Linked DNA regions of Homo sapiens. The protein of the gene in region 1 purifies or fractionates together with the protein of each later gene. This does not show direct contact. Each region holds a gene or a part of one and is shown in the gene's direction. Other genes may lie near its edges.

Region 1 (4,216 bases):
ATTTCTTTGCAGTACAATTTTGAGAAATAGGTTAACTCTATTTTAACTTAAAAGTACCCTAAAAATTATTTAATTGTTTATTAGTGAGTAACAGGCTCAAATACAGCAGTTTTTTTTTTCTTTTAGTATTGCTTTGCATCCTCTAGGCTTGAATGGTATAAACACTGTGTTTTGACTTCTTATTCAATTTTAGATTACCAAAGAAGATTTTGCCACATTTGATTATATACTATGTATGGATGAAAGCAATCTGAGGTAATCCTGTTTTTGAAGAATATTTCTGTTCAACTCTCAGTTCAGCAGTGGGCCAAGTAATTTGTTGTCCAGATTTACTTTTTCTATTTTAAAGGTTTTAATAGTCAGTGATGGTCACCATATGTAGAATTATTTTATTTAGAACAGCAAAAAACTTAGTAATCTAGAATTGTCTCTTAGGTATTTACAAGGAAATACACCTTAGAAAAGGGAAAGTCTAGTTGTTAATAGCATGATTTAATTGGAAAACTAGCTTGGCTGTTATAGTTTTGTATCAAGCATATTGTTCTGCATGAGAACGATTTTGATATTTTTGCTGTAATGATTCCTGGGCAGGGCAGTGTTTTATTGATTCTCAGGTCAAAGCTCTGCAACCATAGGTTCCTATTATTATCCCATCTTGTAAAAGAAGGAAGTGAGAAACGGTAATGTTAGGTTATGTCCCCGAGTTCACACAGCTAGCATGTGGTGGATGTCATGGGATTTAAGCCTAGGCTCAGTGAGGAAGGGCCCTGCTGTATGCACCCCTGCCTCAGTCACCACCCTCCTGACCTGCCCCAGTCCCATGTTCAAGGCGTCATCGGGAACGGATCATAATTTAATGTCACTCCAGGATTCTGACTTGCATCACTACTTATTCATAAATATCTCATGTTTTTGATGAAGATAAACTATTTGTGCTTTTAATTACTTTTGTACAAATGAACAGATAGGGATGCACCAGTTTCAATTATTTTTTATTAATTAGGACCTTCATTAAAATGCATGTATTTTTTAATTTTTATTTTTCAGTCCTTATTCTGTTCTCATTGTTTTTGCTGACACCATAGCCCATAGGCATCGTAAAAACACCTTTTTAGGAGACCCCATTTGCTTTGACTGGCACTGAGCACCGTGTTTCTTTGCGTGTGGGGCAAGTGGAGTTCCTGCAGCCTCACATTTGCACGTGCTGTTCCTCTGCCTGGAAGCTCCTCCTTGCTTCTTGGGTCATTCGGCTCCTATTTGCCCCTCGTGGGTCAGCTTAAATTCATTTCTTGATAGAGGTATTCTGCTGCCCTGTCATTAGGCCAGATTGTGCATTAGACTTAGGCCTGCCTGCAGTTCTCATTCCTGCACCTAATCCTGAGCTGTAAAACTTCGTGCATGGGAGCTCTTGGCTGTTCCGTTCCCACATAAAGCACGTACCTGACTCATCAACTCATCTGTCGCAGGTGCTCAGTCGAAATTTGTTAAATAAATGGAGGCGCTTAGTTAAGTTTGCCTTTTTCTTTTGTAGCAATGTGAAAGCTAAGGGTGGAAGTCTAGAGTGAAGCTGAGTTTTCAGCTTGGGCAGAGGCTTAAGGAATAAAAGATGGAAGAGTAATTAAGGAGTGGGTCGTGCTGTGGGAAGTGCTGTGTCAAGACACCTGAGGATGGAATTGGTAGCCCTCTGTTTTGGGACTGGTTCAGATGGTGTTTTGGGTTCCTTTCTATGACCTTTATCTCTGAAACTTGATTGTCTTAAAATGTATTTTGTGGGAGAAAATATAATTATTGTATATTTTGTGTAACAGAATCAGTGAGAATAAGCTGCTGTCGCAAACTGTCTTGCCTAGAGAGAGGGCAGTGGCATACAGCTGCAGAAGGGGCCACACGGGCCTGCTGAGTGTTCCGTTTCATTTCAAATTAGGTCATTCTGTCTTGATTTTGATATGGATGTTTCAGAACACCCTAGCAGATGTCCCTGTTTAACTTGAAACCATAGATCAGAAAACTAAGTTCATATTTCAATTTTACAGAGATTTGAATAGAAAAAGTAATCAAGTTAAAACCTGCAAAGCTAAAATTGAACTACTTGGGAGCTATGATCCACAAAAACAACTTATTATTGAAGATCCCTATTATGTAAGTACAGTTCACGTTTTAGGGCTAATATGAAGACCCAACACATTTGTATCCTGCCATATTAAATAACAGATGAGATTGTGTTAAGGATGTTTTTGTTATGCAGGTTTTGCCATTTTCTTCTTTTTCCTGTCCATTTAGGGGAATGACTCTGACTTTGAGACGGTGTACCAGCAGTGTGTCAGGTGCTGCAGAGCGTTCTTGGAGAAGGCCCACTGAGGCAGGTTCGTGCCCTGCTGCGGCCAGCCTGACTAGACCCCACCCTGAGGTCCTGCATTTCTCAGTCGGTGTGTAATCACGTTCCAGGGCCCAAAGCCCAGCTCTTTGTTCAGTTGACTTACTGTTTCTTACCTTAAAAAGTAATTGTAGATGGAAATCAGTTGTGTTTGGCAGGAGAATCAATAAAAATCTTTGATTCAGACAGCTTATGGGGTATTTTAAGCATTCTTAGACTAGTTGAACATCTCACTTTGCCCCAGTTACAAAAATAGTAGAACAAGCAACATAAAACAATGAAGGAAAACCTCACTTGAAGGCCCAGGTCAACATCTAAGCCTGTTGAGACTTAGATAATCGAGTCTACCTCTTCAGTAGGTTTGTGTGGATGGCCTGGAGGGCAGGTGCCCTCTGCTCCCCAGTGCTACCTCTCTCTTCCCTAGGGCCTTTTGTGGATTGACAGTAGTCCCCTCCGTAGGAGCTCACAGTCTAGATTAGAAGTGTTTTAATTTCTACACACCCATAGTGCACACTTGTATATTGAAAAGATAGGGAAGAGAGAAACATTTATGGAATCAGTCGTTGGCACCTTCAATACTTCATGATTTTTGTCGAGTTTACTTCATGAGGAGGTCAGCCCATTGGCTCCCATCTGAACCACTTTGCCTCTGAAACTTAATTACATCCAGAAAGAAGGACACTTGTATGCTAGTCTATGGTCAGTTGAGGAATATGACTGTTTTTATATGCACATGTAACCCAAATGTCCAATATAAATTGGCTTATTTTTTAAAATAATTTTAAAAGTTGGGAAAAGTGTTATTATTTGGCATGCTTAAATATTGAATAAGTATTCTTCATCAGCATTTAATAAATGTATAGGCAGATGTAAGGTAATTTCTGTGTATTTTGAGATAATGTCAAAATCATGAATATTTCAAAATAAACTGGGGAGTTATAAAAATACAACTAGAGATATAAATCTGGTGTCTGCCTGTTTTTTTATTGACAGGTAAGGAAGCATTTGAAAACATTGTATTGTCCTTTTTACATGATCTGTGATGTTAGGTGTGCATATTTTATCTTCAGGATAAGGAAGTAAAATGATGAAAATAAGCACATTGCTGCCCCATGTCATCATGTCTAGTTTCTGAAGGAAGTTTGAGGTTCTACAGCTGGAACTGTCCTTGCCCAGTACCATCCTCTGGACATGTTGCCTCTACGCTGTGCCCTCCTGTGCAGTGATGCACAGCTGCCTGGCCAGGACATCTGCACTCCTGACCTCAGTATCATGAGGGTCCCAGGCAGTGCCATGGGGAGGAGACACGTTTGATCCTTGACTCCCTAGTATCTGGAGGATAAGCTGTTGCCAGATGAAAGTGAGTAGTTTCCCCACTGTACCATGTGGAAGTGCCAGGCTGTCTTCATAGGAAGAAAGTTTGCAAACCCAGTGAGTCTTGCTCTTGTTGGAATTACTCAGACATACAGAAAACTGAGGGGATTAAATATTAATAGATTGGATATTTGAACATGAAATCCTTAAAACATAAAAAATGGGGAAGGAAAGGTCAAGTAATGAGCTGTAATTAGAAAACAGGATTAAATAAGAGCACTTCAAAAGTTACACCCTGTTCTCTTCATTCAGTAATTGCTTTTAATCTCAAAGTCAAAATTTCTTACTCTTCTATTCCTTTATGTTTGGAAATAAAATCCTATAGTTTTTCTTTAATGTTTATCTCTATAAATACAGATCCTCAAACAAATCCTAGGACTCTTGACTATTCTGTCCTTATGGCTACACCCAGACGATACCATCTGCCGACAAGGGCTCATATGAATGGAGAAACTCATTGCTTTGCCG
Region 2 (4,622 bases), about 130 Mb from region 1:
AGATATAATTATTTCATTATATATTAATAATAATAGAAATAAAGTGCACAATGAATGTAATATACTTGAATCATCCTGGAACCATCCCCCACCTCAGGTTCCTGTAAACATTATCTTCCACAAAACCAGTCCCTGGTGCCAGCATGGTTGGGGACACCTGGTTAACAGATGTGAGACCCCTTTGCCTTGTCTTGGAATAATGTGCAGATATGCATTGTGTGAATGACATCTGATGGCGCCATCTTGCCCTGTACATCATTTTAGGGACAGCTCCAGTATTTCATGAAAATTAAAATTTCTTCTAGTGACGAACAAAATGATACTCAGAAGCAATTTTGTGAAGAACAGAACACTGGAATATTACACGATGAGATTCTGATTCATGAAGAAAAGCAGATAGAAGTGGTTGAAAAAATGAATTCTGAGGTATTTTCTTTAGTTATTTTCAAATGTTTTTATATGTGTGTATATTTTAAAGAACTGTATTTTGGAAATATAAAGGATTTTTAAGTCATATATATGTGTGTATATATTCTATATATCCTTTGTCATATATCTATATACGTACGTATAGGATAAAGCCATGTTCTTAATTCACCTTCATTTGCCTGCAACAGTTGAGTAGTGACCTGCACAATGGCCTCAATCCAAAGGAGAAGTATTTGATGTTTTTCATAAGAATTGATGATCTTTCCACATCAGAAATAAGTTTTGCTACTGAAAACAGATTTTCTCGTTTTTGGACATTAGTTTTTTAAAAAATGTTAATAGAGAAGTCAATTGATTATTTTTACTGATAAGAAAGTAGGAAATGTATAGCTGGGTCAGAGGCCACATTGTGGATACCATTATCCTTACTTTTGCAGAGAGGAACAGTTTGCTCCAAGTAGTTTCTCATTTCAGTGTAAAGAGGTTTGAAAACAATGACATGCCATGATACACATTTAGTAATAATTTATTGATAAGTATTTTGTTTCTGGAGAAATAGTTCAGTATATTTCCCCTATTTCACCATTACTACTGTTTCAAACATTATAAAGAGGAAATAAAAGTTACCGCAATGGCAAATAATCTCATGATTTCTAAGAAGATCTCTATAAGTTGTATCTTATTTACCATTCATATTTTGAAACAAAAGGTTTCTTTTGTATTTATATATTTACACCACAGAAGTAAGTGTGGTTTTGTGGAGGATCACTAGAAGTAGCATCAGCAGACCTGGGGAAAATCCTGCATCTGTGTATATTTTTTGACCTCTCCTTTTAAGAATCGCGATCTTAAATGAGTTCAGTATTATATGTAGAAGAGCAATGCCTAGATACAGATGTGTACAGTGTAGAAGGGTACAGTGCTTAGATTTGACAGTTATAAATAAATGTAATTCTTATAACTGAGTATAGAAATATTAGAAATGTAGAATATCGGTAAAACGTTCTTCAGTAAAAGAAACTTAAAGAACTTTGAGAAATTGCTTCTGTCCAAATATATGCATAGCTAAGGCTCTTAGGATGGTGTGGTTGATAGGTTAGATATCAGAGTGTAAACCTAATCTTAAAAATGTAGTCAAATTATTAATCTTATATTTTATGCCTCTGGGTTTTTTGTAACTCAGAAAAAGGCTTTTTTAATTCTGGGATTCTTAAAAATCCTCTAGTGATTTATTTTTCATCGTCTTTAAATAAATATTTAAACTTTTAGGAATTTAGGAGCAGATTCCTAAAAGTTTAAATATTTATTTAAAGACGATGAAAAATAAATCACTGGAGGAATTTACACTCTTATTAGGTTTGAAGTTTTGTCCAATTTTTTTCCAGTTAAATATCCACTATGGGGATTCTTTCATTATACAAATACATGTTATTTTTGAATTTCAGAAGAAATCATGATATGTCAATCTATTGAGTGCTAACTAAAAGTTCTCTTTGTTTACTTAGCTTTCTCTTAGTTGTAAGAAAGAAAAAGACGTCTTGCATGAAAATAGTACGTTGCGGGAAGAAATTGCCATGCTAAGACTGGAGCTAGACACAATGAAACATCAGAGCCAGCTAAGAGAAAAGAAATATTTGGAGGATATTGAAAGTGTGAAAAAAAAGAATGATAATCTTTTAAAGGCTCTACAATTGAATGAGCTCACCATGGATGATGATACCGCCGTGCTCGTCATTGACAACGGCTCTGGCATGTGCAAGGCCGGCTTTGCGGGCGACGATGCCCCCCGGGCTGTCTTCCCTTCCATCGTGGGGCGCCCCAGGCAGCAGGGCATGATGGGGGGCATGCATCAGAAAGAGTCCTATGTGGGCAAGGAGGCCCAGAGCAAGAGAGGCATCCTGACCCTGAAGTACCCCATGGAACACGGCATCATCACCAACTGGGATGACATGGAGAAGATCTGGCACCACACCTTCTACAACGAGCTGCGTGTGGCTCCCGAGGAGCACCCCATCCTGCTGACCGAGGCCCCCCTGAACCCCAAGGCCAACCGCGAGAAGATGACCCAGATCATGTTTGAGACCTTCAACACCCCAGCCATGTACGTGGCCATCCAGGCCGTGCCGTCCCTGTACACCTCTGGCCGTACTACTGGCATCGTGATGGACTCTGGTGACGGGGTCACCCACACTGTGCCCATCTATGAGGGGAATGCCCTCCCCCATGCCACCCTGCGCCTAGACCTGGCTGGGCGGGAACTGCCTGACTACCTCATGAAGATCCTCACCGAGCGTGGCTATAGGTTCACCACCATGGCCGAGCGGGAAATCGTGCGTGACATCAAAGAGAAGCTGTGCTATGTTGCCCTGGACTTCGAGCAGGAGATGGCCACGGCGGCCTCCAGCTCCTCCCTAGAGAAGAGCTACGAGCTGCCCGATGGCCAGGTCATCACCATCGGCAACGAGCGGTTCCGCTGCCCCGAGGCGCTCTTCCAGCCTTGCTTCCTGGGCATGGAATCCTGTGGCATCCATGAAACTACCTTCAACTCCATCATGAAGTCTGATGTGGACATCCGCAAAGACCTGTACACCAACACAGTGCTGTCTGGCGGCACCACCATGTACCCTGGCATGGCCCACAGAATGCAGAAGGAGATCGCTGCCCTGGCGCCTAGCATGATGAAGATCAGGATCATTGCTCCTCCCAAGCGCAAGTACTCCGTGTGGGTCGGTGGCTCCATCCTGGCCTCGCTGTCCACCTTCCAGCAGATGTGGATCAGCAAGCAGGAGTATGATGAGTCAGGCCCCTCCATTGTCCACCGCAAATGCTTCTAGGTGGACTCTGACTTAGTTGCGTTACACCCTTTCTTGACAAAACCAAACTTCTCAGAAAACAACATGAGATTGGCATGGCTTTATTTGTTTTCTTGTTTCATTTTTTGTTTTGTTTTTTATTGGCTTGACTCAGGATTTAAAAACCGGAATGGTGAAGGTGACAGCAGTCGGTTGGAGGAAGCTTCCTCCAAAGTTCTACAATGTTGCCAAGGACTTTGATTGTACATTGTTCTTCTTTTCAATAGTCATTCCAAATATTGTGAGACGCATTGTTTCAGGAAGCCCCTTGCCCTGCTAAAAGCCATCCCACTTCTCTCTAAGGAGAATGGCCCAGTCCTCTCCCTAGTTCACACAGGGGAGGTGATAGCATTGCTTTTGTGCAAATTACATAATGCAAAATTTTTTGAATCTTCGCCTTAATACTTTTTAATTTTGTTTTATTTTGAATGATCAGCCTTCGTGGCCCCCCTCTTTTGTACCCCAACTTGGGGTGTATGAAGGCTTTTGGTCTCCCTGAGAGTGGCTGGAGGCAGCCAGGGCTTACCTGTACTCTGACTTGAGGAGAGTTGGATAAAAGTGCACACCTTAAAAAAAATTGAGGAAGCACAGTATTTCAGTACAGTGGACAGCTTAGCATGTTGACAACTGAGAATAAAATGCTCAGTTCTGAACTGGACAATGTAAGACACAACGAGGAAACACTGGAAATGGAAATTCAATTACGTCATTGTAGACTGGCTGCTGCTCTACATGATTGTGACCAAAGTCAGATAGCTGAAAGAGACTTCTTTCCAGAGAACAAGACATGAACAGGTTTATTTACAGAAGACAATGAATTCTCATTTATCTCACCTAAAAGAGAACAGATTCTTTCTCAACAAGTCTAATGTAGACAGTAAAATCAACAGGCTAAAAATTAAGCTCCACGAAACAAGATAAAACTCTGAGAGAAAAGACGGGGCAGGCCGCCATCTTTCCCGTTCAGGCAACTTAGTCATTCCAGCCTGCGGGCTTTGGAGAGTACAAACCGACGAGGGACAGAAGAGATCCCACAGCACAGCATAGCTGCTTTACCAAATCATGGCCAGACTGCTTCTGTAAGCAGGCCCCTGATCCTGTTCCACCTCACTGGACAGGACCTCCCAACTGGGGCCTCCAGCTACCCCCACCAGCATTCCTTGGCCAATGGAAATGTGAAATGTTCCTGGGACAGAGCTCCCGGAGAGGGGCAGGCCCCCACCTTTGCTCTTTTGGTGACTAGCCATTCTGGCCTGCGGGCTTTGGAGAGCCCAAGCTGACAAGGGGTGGAAGAGGTACCTCAGCACAGCACAGCCACGCTACAAAAACGTGGCCAGACTC

The links.
Region 2: the proteins of ACP1 (region 1) and POTEE purify together in Homo sapiens (affinity purification with mass spectrometry; 2 studies listed by BioGRID and IntAct, with this or other methods). This does not show direct contact.

The regions. Positions count from the first base shown.
Region 1 is NC_000002.12:274,947-279,162, forward strand, and holds the end of ACP1 (low molecular weight phosphotyrosine protein phosphatase), read left to right. Parts: intron 1-193; coding exon 194-255; intron 256-2,033; coding exon 2,034-2,139; intron 2,140-2,280; coding exon 2,281-2,358; 3' UTR 2,359-3,337; downstream 3,338-4,216. UniProt on the Homo sapiens protein: Acts on tyrosine phosphorylated proteins, low-MW aryl phosphates and natural and synthetic acyl phosphates with differences in substrate specificity between isoform 1 and isoform 2.
Region 2 is NC_000002.12:131,261,421-131,266,042, forward strand, and holds the end of POTEE (POTE ankyrin domain family member E), read left to right. Parts: intron 1-305; coding exon 306-426; intron 427-1,934; coding exon 1,935-3,263; 3' UTR 3,264-3,858; downstream 3,859-4,622.